Regions from separate parts of the Homo sapiens genome. Here region 1 is linked to region 2. The links come from fine-mapping of genetic effects on gene expression. Tissue or cell type: lung. Region 2 holds a variant in brackets; the other region holds the start of a gene. All regions are shown on one strand. Distances are from middle to middle.

The links. PIP is the estimated chance that this variant, and not a neighbour inherited with it, causes the effect.
Region 1: it holds the start of NPTXR, and the variant in region 2 is fine-mapped to the expression of NPTXR in lung (TOPMed, PIP above 0.99).

Annotation. Positions count from the first base shown.
Region 1 is chr22:38,842,520-38,846,633 of GRCh38, reverse strand. NPTXR (neuronal pentraxin receptor) reads left to right here and starts at 2,606. Exons shown (of 5, transcript NM_014293.4): 1 at 2,606-3,399. The coding sequence starts at 2,776. RefSeq lists a silencer at 3,018-3,087.
Region 2 is chr22:38,773,711-38,777,962 of GRCh38, reverse strand. No RefSeq gene overlaps it. Among named protein-coding and RNA genes, the nearest start is that of DNAL4, 18 kb to the left of the region's middle. The variant G/C (reference allele first, on the strand shown) is at 1,709.

The DNA of each region.
Region 1 (4,114 bases), 69 kb before region 2:
GCACTATGCCTGGCACAATGTAGGTCTCAAAACATATTTTCTAAAATGAATTCCTATATTTGTTATATATGGCAGAATTCCCTTGGCCTAAGAATGGAATGAAAGTGAAGAAATTTAAAAAAAAAAAAACTAGGAGTCATGACAATTCAGAGGGAAAATATAGGAACTATTCCAGTTTTAGGGAAGTTCCCCTGAGAATACTTCTCTGCCCATCCCTTGAGGAATCCTGTGTTAGGATTAAGGGGGGTCTCTCCCAGGACCCAGGAGAGACGAGTTTTGGGACTTCTCTGTCCTCTCCTCCTTCCTCTGCCTCCAGCAGTGGCATTAGGAACTAGTTCAGCAAACATTCACCGAGAAGCTTCCCTGGGCAGGCTTCATGCTGAATGCTGGGGATAGAGATGGGCCAAGGAAGAAGGGAGAGGCTGGGCGCCATGGCTCACGCCTGTAATCCCAGCACTTTGGGAGGCCGAGGCAGGTGGATCACCTGAGGTCAGGAGTTCAAGACCAGCCTGGCCAACATATTGAAACTCCATCTCTACTAAAAATACAAAAATTAGCTGGGCGTGGTGGCGTGCACCTGTAGTCCCAGCTACTTGGGAGACTGAGGCAGGAGAATTGCTTGAACCCGCAAGGCAGAGGTTCCAGTGAGCCGAGATCACGCCACCGCACTGCAGCCTGGGTGACAGAGCAAGACTCTGTCTCAAAAATAAAATAAAATAAAAAATAAAGTCATTCTAGGAGATCAACAGACCAGTTTAAACACAATTTGACTCCAGCCTCTGGACCCATTTATCCAAACTGTCCCCAAAGTCTCAGGGGGCAGCTCAGGTAAAGGTGGCACCATTTGGTGCCCAAGTCACAGTGGCTCTGCTGCTCTTGGCAGCAGCCCTCTCTCTTGGCATCTCCTGTCCTTCCCTGGACTTCCTATGACAGTTTCTCCTGGGGATGCTATCTCCGTGTTTCTGTCTTCACGGCACACGTGTAGATGTACCAGGAGTCCCGATGTCTCATGCATCCCCAGGACTTTAGCAGGGCCTACCGCTGGCCTTTGCCTTCCAAGAGCCCAGCCCATCTCTCTGTCCATGAGATGCTTCCTCCAAGCCCAGCTGCCTGCCCTGGGTTTTGAGGTTACGACTTCAGTGAGCACCAGCACACATCCACGCACACACAGCACTCAGGTTCCTGGCATACAGCGCTTGTGTTTGCTTCTCTCCTCTTTCACAACTCAGGTATGGATGAAAATCCCTGGCTCCTAGAGATGGGTGAACAGGGTGGACATCATCCTAACATGTGTGGAGAGAGGGAGGTGGAGCACGTGTGCCTGGGAACACTGGACAAAATCCCCGTGGCTGGAGAGCGTCCCCCAGGGTTGTGGCTTCCTGGGAAACATTCCGGTCTCTCCCCACCACCAGCGCTATGTGAAGTACACTCGAAACCACAGTGGTAGCCGTGGTGGTCCAGAGATCCTGGTTTGCGCTTTCCCTTCAAGTCAAAAATGCAGGCTTGGAAGGGAGACAGAGCTGGGAATAACCACAGCCCTCCCAAGGCCCTTCCAGCCCTGGGAATCCGTATTGGTCAGGAAAGACCTCATGGAAAATTGGAGCTGGGGATAAAGTGTGGAGGATAGTAGGATTGTTTTTAAGTTTTTAATTGCAAAGTTAATTTTCAACAAAATATATATAGACATTTTTGACAGAAGAAAGTAAAACGCTCCTCTGCCACCCCCACAGCACAGCCCACTCCCATTCCTGCTGTTCCTTCTGGGCCTGGTCCACATGCCCACCAGGCACGTGGCACCGCTTGCCAACGAAGGCAGACTGCAGTGGGGGTGGGGGGTTTCTCTGGACCTGTGAGGCTCTAAGCCCCCAAGGATTCAGAGGAGAGAATTTCCATCATCCTCTGAGATCACAGGAAGATTCTGTAATGAGGGTGGCGGGGAGTGAACTCTGCTCCTTCAGAAGGTTGGAGGTGGGGGTGACGGGCAGGTGGCCACAGTATAAACAGAAGTTAGGTCAAAATCCGAGCCTCCCCCCAACCCCCAACACTGGCCTCTTCTCCACCTCTAACCGCTCCCACTCCAGCCCCATCCACAGTCTGGTCCGGTGAAACGTGCCTAAGCTCGCAGGCGGCTCCAACGCAGCCACCCGGTGACCTTGGACAGAGGCCTGACCTCAGGTGTCTCAGTTTCCTCATTTCTATTGTGAGCCTGTCCACGGCAAGGCTCAATTGCGACCGAGCTTGTGGCGCGCCCAGTGCACAGCCCCACCCGGAAGAAAGCTCCCTCCCGGGTGGATGTGAACATAACCGGCTTGGGGAGGGGGCCCGAGCACGGGAGGGCTGGGATGGGGGTCACCCAGGAGCCCCGCCGCGCGGCCCTCGGGTCGCCGGCCCCTGCGCTGTGACCGCGGCGAGATAAGGTCCCAGGCGCTGCCCTCGCTCCTCGCCGCATCCCCGGCGGCGCCCCCAGCCGGGCGCCCGGCACTGAACGGGTGCGGGGCTGGGCCGGGGCCAGGGCCGGCCCGGGGAAGCGAGTGGGGCGGGGCCGCCGCGCCCGCTCCCCCTCCCCGCCGCCTGCCGTCTTCTCCTCCTCCCGCCGCCCGGGCTCAGAGCGGCGGCAGCAGCGGCCGCGGCGACAGCTCCAGCTCCGGCTCCGGCTCCGGCTCCGGCTCCGGCTCCCGCGCCTGCCCCGCTCGGCCCAGCGCGCCCGGGCTCCGCGCCCCGACCCCGCCGCCGCGCCTGCCGGGGGCCTCGGGCGCCCCCGCCGCCCGCCTCACGCTGAAGTTCCTGGCCGTGCTGCTGGCCGCGGGCATGCTGGCGTTCCTCGGTGCCGTCATCTGCATCATCGCCAGCGTGCCCCTGGCGGCCAGCCCGGCGCGGGCGCTGCCCGGCGGCGCCGACAATGCTTCGGTCGCCTCGGGCGCCGCCGCGTCCCCGGGCCCGCAGCGGAGCCTGAGCGCGCTGCACGGCGCGGGCGGTTCAGCCGGGCCCCCCGCGCTGCCCGGGGCACCCGCGGCCAGCGCGCACCCGCTGCCGCCCGGGCCCCTGTTCAGCCGCTTCCTGTGCACGCCGCTGGCTGCTGCCTGCCCGTCGGGGGCCCAGCAGGGGGACGCGGCGGGCGCTGCGCCGGGCGAGCGCGAAGAGCTGCTGCTGCTGCAGAGCACGGCCGAGCAGCTGCGCCAGACGGCGCTGCAGCAGGAGGCGCGCATCCGCGCCGACCAGGACACCATCCGTGAGCTCACCGGCAAGCTGGGCCGCTGCGAGAGCGGCCTGCCGCGCGGCCTCCAGGGCGCCGGGCCCCGCCGCGACACCATGGCCGACGGGCCCTGGGACTCGCCTGCGCTCATTCTGGAGCTGGAGGACGCCGTGCGCGCCCTGCGGGACCGCATCGACCGCCTGGAGGTGAGCGCCGCGCGCCGTCGGGGGAGCCGCCCGGGTGGTGTGAGGGGCCGCCCGGCCGCGGTCGTCCGGCGGTCCCCGAGCCTCCGGTCTCCCGTCTGTGTTCCGGGGACGATCGCGCCTTCCTCGCTGGCGAGGCGGGGGGATTTCGATAGGGAACGCGGGCAGGCGTCTGGCACGGTGACTGAGGCACAGAGGGCGCGCCAGAAAGATTCGCTCCCCACCCTTTTCCGTCTCCAGGCACCTCTCTGAGCCTCAGTTTCTGTGTCTGTAAAATAGGTATAACAGTGTCCACTTGTAGTGGAAATTGAATCAAATGTAGGTGTGTGAAAATGCTTGGCACGTACTAGGACCTCATTAAATGTCCCTTTCATTTCCTTCTTCCGGACACCCCCAAATCAGCCCAGCTCCACGCTCACACTTTATGGCCAGGAGATGGATGCGCTGTCCAAAGGACTTGGGGTCCTCCCCTCATTACACAGAGCCGGGAACAGAGTGCCCTATAAGACAAACCTGGGTGCCCCTCACCACCTCCCTACCCTGAATCTCCCACTCTGGCTCAGACTATGACCCAAACCGCAGGAGCTCAGGTGCCAGGCGCCCAGCCTCACACACCTGGAAGCCCACAGCTCTTGGGTGGGGGCTGAATGGAGAACAGGGCCCCCCGAGCTCCTCCTCCTCCACTCACTTTTCCAGGCTTTCCTGACTCAGGCTTGGG
Region 2 (4,252 bases):
AGGGAGAGGGCTGCTCTCAGGACAGAAAACTAGACATTACCCCAAGGCACTTGGGGTAAACGCAGGAGATGAGAAGTGACTTGAGGACAGGAGCCACGTGCAGGCCTGTGAAGCCCCCTCAGGGGTTGTCCCCTGAATCCGAGCCTCAGAAGTGAACACCCCGGGCGTGGGGAGAGCGGGGAGAGCCCGCCTTCCCATGCACACAGGGGCCCTCCTGAGATGGTCCCTAGGATACATGGGTCTGGGAGCTGAAGCCCTGTCCTTATCCCAGTCCCAGTCCCACCCTTGTGAGACTGAGCGTCCAGCACTAACAAGATCCATCAACAGATTGGCTGGGCAGCCTCATGGCGAGCAGGTAAGGTTTGCTCAGACCAGACCCATGCAGCCAAGGGGAAGGTTGCTGCCGTGTGCGCACCCGGTCCAAGAGCAGTGGGACAGACAAGAACGAGAAGGCGCAGTCGTTGCCTCAAGGCTGACCATCTGGTTGGGTGGCTTTCCAGCTGGTCCTGGCCCTCTGGGACTTGGCGGATGGGGCAGCTTCTTGGCCTCAGACCTGCCCTGGCCAGAACCCTGTGCCACTCGGGTGTTGCGGAGGGATTGGCAGAAGGGAGTGAACGGAGAGGCGGGGGCCGGCGCTGGAGGTGGGGAGCAGGCGCCGAGGCCTAGAATAGCTGCGCTGATTACCGCCCGCTCTGCATCTGTTCTCTCCTTTCATCTGCTGCACGTGGGCGCCAAAAAGCGAGGCTGGCTCAGCCGGCAACCAGGGTGGTGGGGGTGGCAGGAGCGTGGGTGCTGAGGCCCGCAGAGCTGGTTCGGGTCTGGCCCTGCTCCTCCTAACTTCTCTGTCTTCAGTGGCTCTGTCTGTAGAATGGGGATACACCGCACCCACCTCACGAGGTTGACGGGAGGCCTGGGACCGCAACTGGAACAGGTGACACCCCCGAGGTGTGCACCGCATTATCGCTGTGCCCCTCCTCTTGCCACCTGTGGACGGGGTGCTGACACCAGCTCCTCGGGGTGGGTGGAGATTCAGTGAGATGAGGCTTGTGCAGTGTCTGGCCCTCACAGTCACACCGTACGGTGGCACCACAGGTGGCGAGCAAACCTTCTACCCTAGTCACTCCTGTCACTGCAGCAGAACCCTCCTCACTTGCCTTCCCAGAAATGGGTCATTCACAGTCTCCCCTTCCTGCTCCCAGACAATGGTGTGGTCACCGTTGGGCCAGGTCAGGTGACGGAACCATGGCAGGTGTGTTTCCCAGGGGTTTCCTTGGCCCCGGTGGCTTTACTTCCACTCCCCAAGACCCATGCCAGACGTGGACACCTGGCCTTCCAGGGCCCTTGCTGCCCGTAACATTCAATAAGCATTTGATGATGGGCTGAAAGGAGAGGTCCGTGACCACGGAGAAGGCACCGTCCTTGCCACCCAGCATACAGGCTACTGAGGGCCAGACCCAGGAACAGAAAAGCAAGACAGGTTCATTTGCCAGAAGAGAGAAGACGGGGTTCAGGGAATCTGGAGTTCAGAGAAGAGAGTGACTCTCACTAGGGGGCTGGGGAGGACTTCACAGAGGAGGTGGCATTGAACTGGGCCTTGGCATTTTCCCAGGAAGGGGTGAGATGGGGGTGGGGAGGGGGAAGTCACCATTGTTTGAGGGACCAGCCGCCCGTGCAGAGTGGGGGCTCCAGGAAGCTCACAATGGGTTCA[G/C]GGAAGCCGGGCAGTGGCCGTGGATGGGAGAGGATATGGGGGTGGGGAGAGAGGACGGGCTGAAGGTGAAAGGGTTTGCTGGGGCTCAGGAGGAAGGAGGCTTCCCCCACTTGGCAGGCACTGGGCTTACCCTGATGTGTAACTCTCAGCAGACCTCCAAATTAGGGGTTGCTGTTGCTATTTACAAATGGAGAAACTCAGGTTTGGAGGATGGAGTGTCTGACCCAGGGTCCAGCTAGGGAGCAGCTGTAGCCGGGACTTGAACCTGGGCTGCCTGCCTGGATAGTCCCTGCTCTTCCACACACGCTGCATTCTCAGACCTTCCGTCCACTTCCCTCCTGCCCCGTCCCCCACAGACAGCTGGGCTCCCCGCGGCCTGGCCACGCCTTGGGCCGTCCATCTCCTAGCTGCTTCCCTCACCATCGCCAGGCCTCCCCTGCACCCTCCACGGCAGTTGCAGCATTTATAGTGGAGGCAGTGACCACAGGCCTGCCACCAACCCCGCCTCTTCGCTGCCATCTGCAGTATGGGGAGGAGGGCCTCCCCCCACTAACACCCCAGTCCGCTCTGCTGGGCCCAGCCAGAGTCAGTGTGGGGCAAAAATCGGAAACCTTGTCTGGACATGTCTAAAGGGAGTCACAGGCCCCAACCCCAGGGCCTGTCCCTCTGCCTGGGAGAGCAGTGAGTGCCCCGCCAGATCAGAGAGAGTGAACCATAGGTCCCCTTGCTGGGACTCCAGAACCACAGGCCTCCCAAGAGTGGGGAGCAAGAGGTGCCGAGGCAGTCAGTGTGAGAAGGTGGAGGGTGAGGGCTTGGTCACGAGGCCTTGTGTCGCCTGTGGAAGGGAGCGTGCTGCCGCGGGGACAGCCAGCTTTGAAGCTCTCTGCGGGGCCTTTGGAGAAATCTGGTGAATATTTCATGTTGCCTTGGAAGAGGTGCAGAGAAACTCCAGCATCTTGTTTAACCTACTTCCTGCTTCTCCAGAGGACAGACCCTACAGGTAGGCAAGGGGGTGTGCCCTTGGGCTATGGGGGCCCCCCTCAAACCAGTGTCCCCCACCCACGCCCCACAGCAGGAGTGAGAACTGTGCAGCAGAGGCTCAGCTCCTTAAGCGCAGAAGCAGGCAGCATCTGATTGTGTCCAGGTTTGGGAGGGGGTTGTCAGAGTGCAGCCACAAAAGCCACCACCCTGTCCTAATTTCCTTTCGTTCTCCTCATCTCATATTTAAAACAACCACCTCCCACTGCCAGCTGCTATCTCCAATCCTTAGAAAGGCCGTGGGGGTGGAAGGAGAGCACGCCTAGAAGGCAGAAGACTCGAATCATTTTGAATAATATTCCCAAACTATTAGATTCCTCAGACGTGCTAGGCACAGCACCAAGCATTTCACCAACCCCATCTTCCCTAATGTGTACGTCCATTCTGTGAGGAGATGCCCTCAGTGTCCCCCTCATGCAGATGAGAAGACCCACAACCTAAGTGGCAGAGCCAGGGTTCCCCGCAGGCCTGTGACAGTTCTGAACCCTCTCCAGGGTTGCCTGCCAGCTTGAACAAGCCACTTCGCTTCTCAGATCTCAGTTTCATCACCTGCAAGACAGGACTCGCAGCTCCGGCTATGCCTGCTTCCCAAAGTTACTGTAGGGCTCCCAGGAGACAGTGGCCCTGAATGTGAGTGTGCTTTAAAGTTGGAAGGGCTGATCAAAGATTTGGGTCAGGTGCTGTGGGGGGCCATCCCTTCCTTGGGCCTCCACTCTGGGTGCGAGGCTTGGGAGTCTGGAAGGCTGGGGTGTGCCAGGTAGGTAGGTTATCATCTCTAAGCCCCTGTAGGCACTGGGCCCCTGCAGAGCCAAAGCAGGAGAGGCAGGGCGGCCACACACACACATGCACCTGGTCCAGTGACCAAGGGCCCCAGGTGGCTGGGACCAGAACCCAGAAAGACAATCCCAATGGCAATTATGTGGGAGGACTTGGCTGTTGACCCAGCAGGGTCCACACTGCGTTTGTCCTTCCAGTCTCAAAATGGCCAATGAAGCAGCCTGGAAGTTTCCATGCGACTCCTCCCTCCCCTAACAGTAGGGAGATGGCGTCATAGAGAACATGTGACATGCCAGGATGGGAGCTGGCCTCAGGTCTCCACTGCACATCAGCAGCTCAGAGTGATACCAGCTCCTCCAGAACCCCTTCCCCGCTGCAACCCATGACACATAGGCACTTTGCGTCCCCACGGTGCCACATCTTCTGTCATGGTGTCTATACCTGCTATGCTTTATTTACTCGATGGCTGGGGCTGTCTTATCTCTCTGTGCATCCCCAATGCCTAGCCCAGGGCCTGATATAAATTGAAAATGCATTGTGACTAGCAAGTGAGTGAATGAAAATAGGAATGGATGAGTGGATGGATGCGTGGGTGGGTAGATGGGCGGATGGACAGATAGATGAATGGATGGGTGGATGGGTGGATGGATGGAATAGATTTCTCTAGGAGGTGCATCAGCAATGACTGGGTCGGGCTGATATGAATCGAAAATGCATTGTGACTAGCAA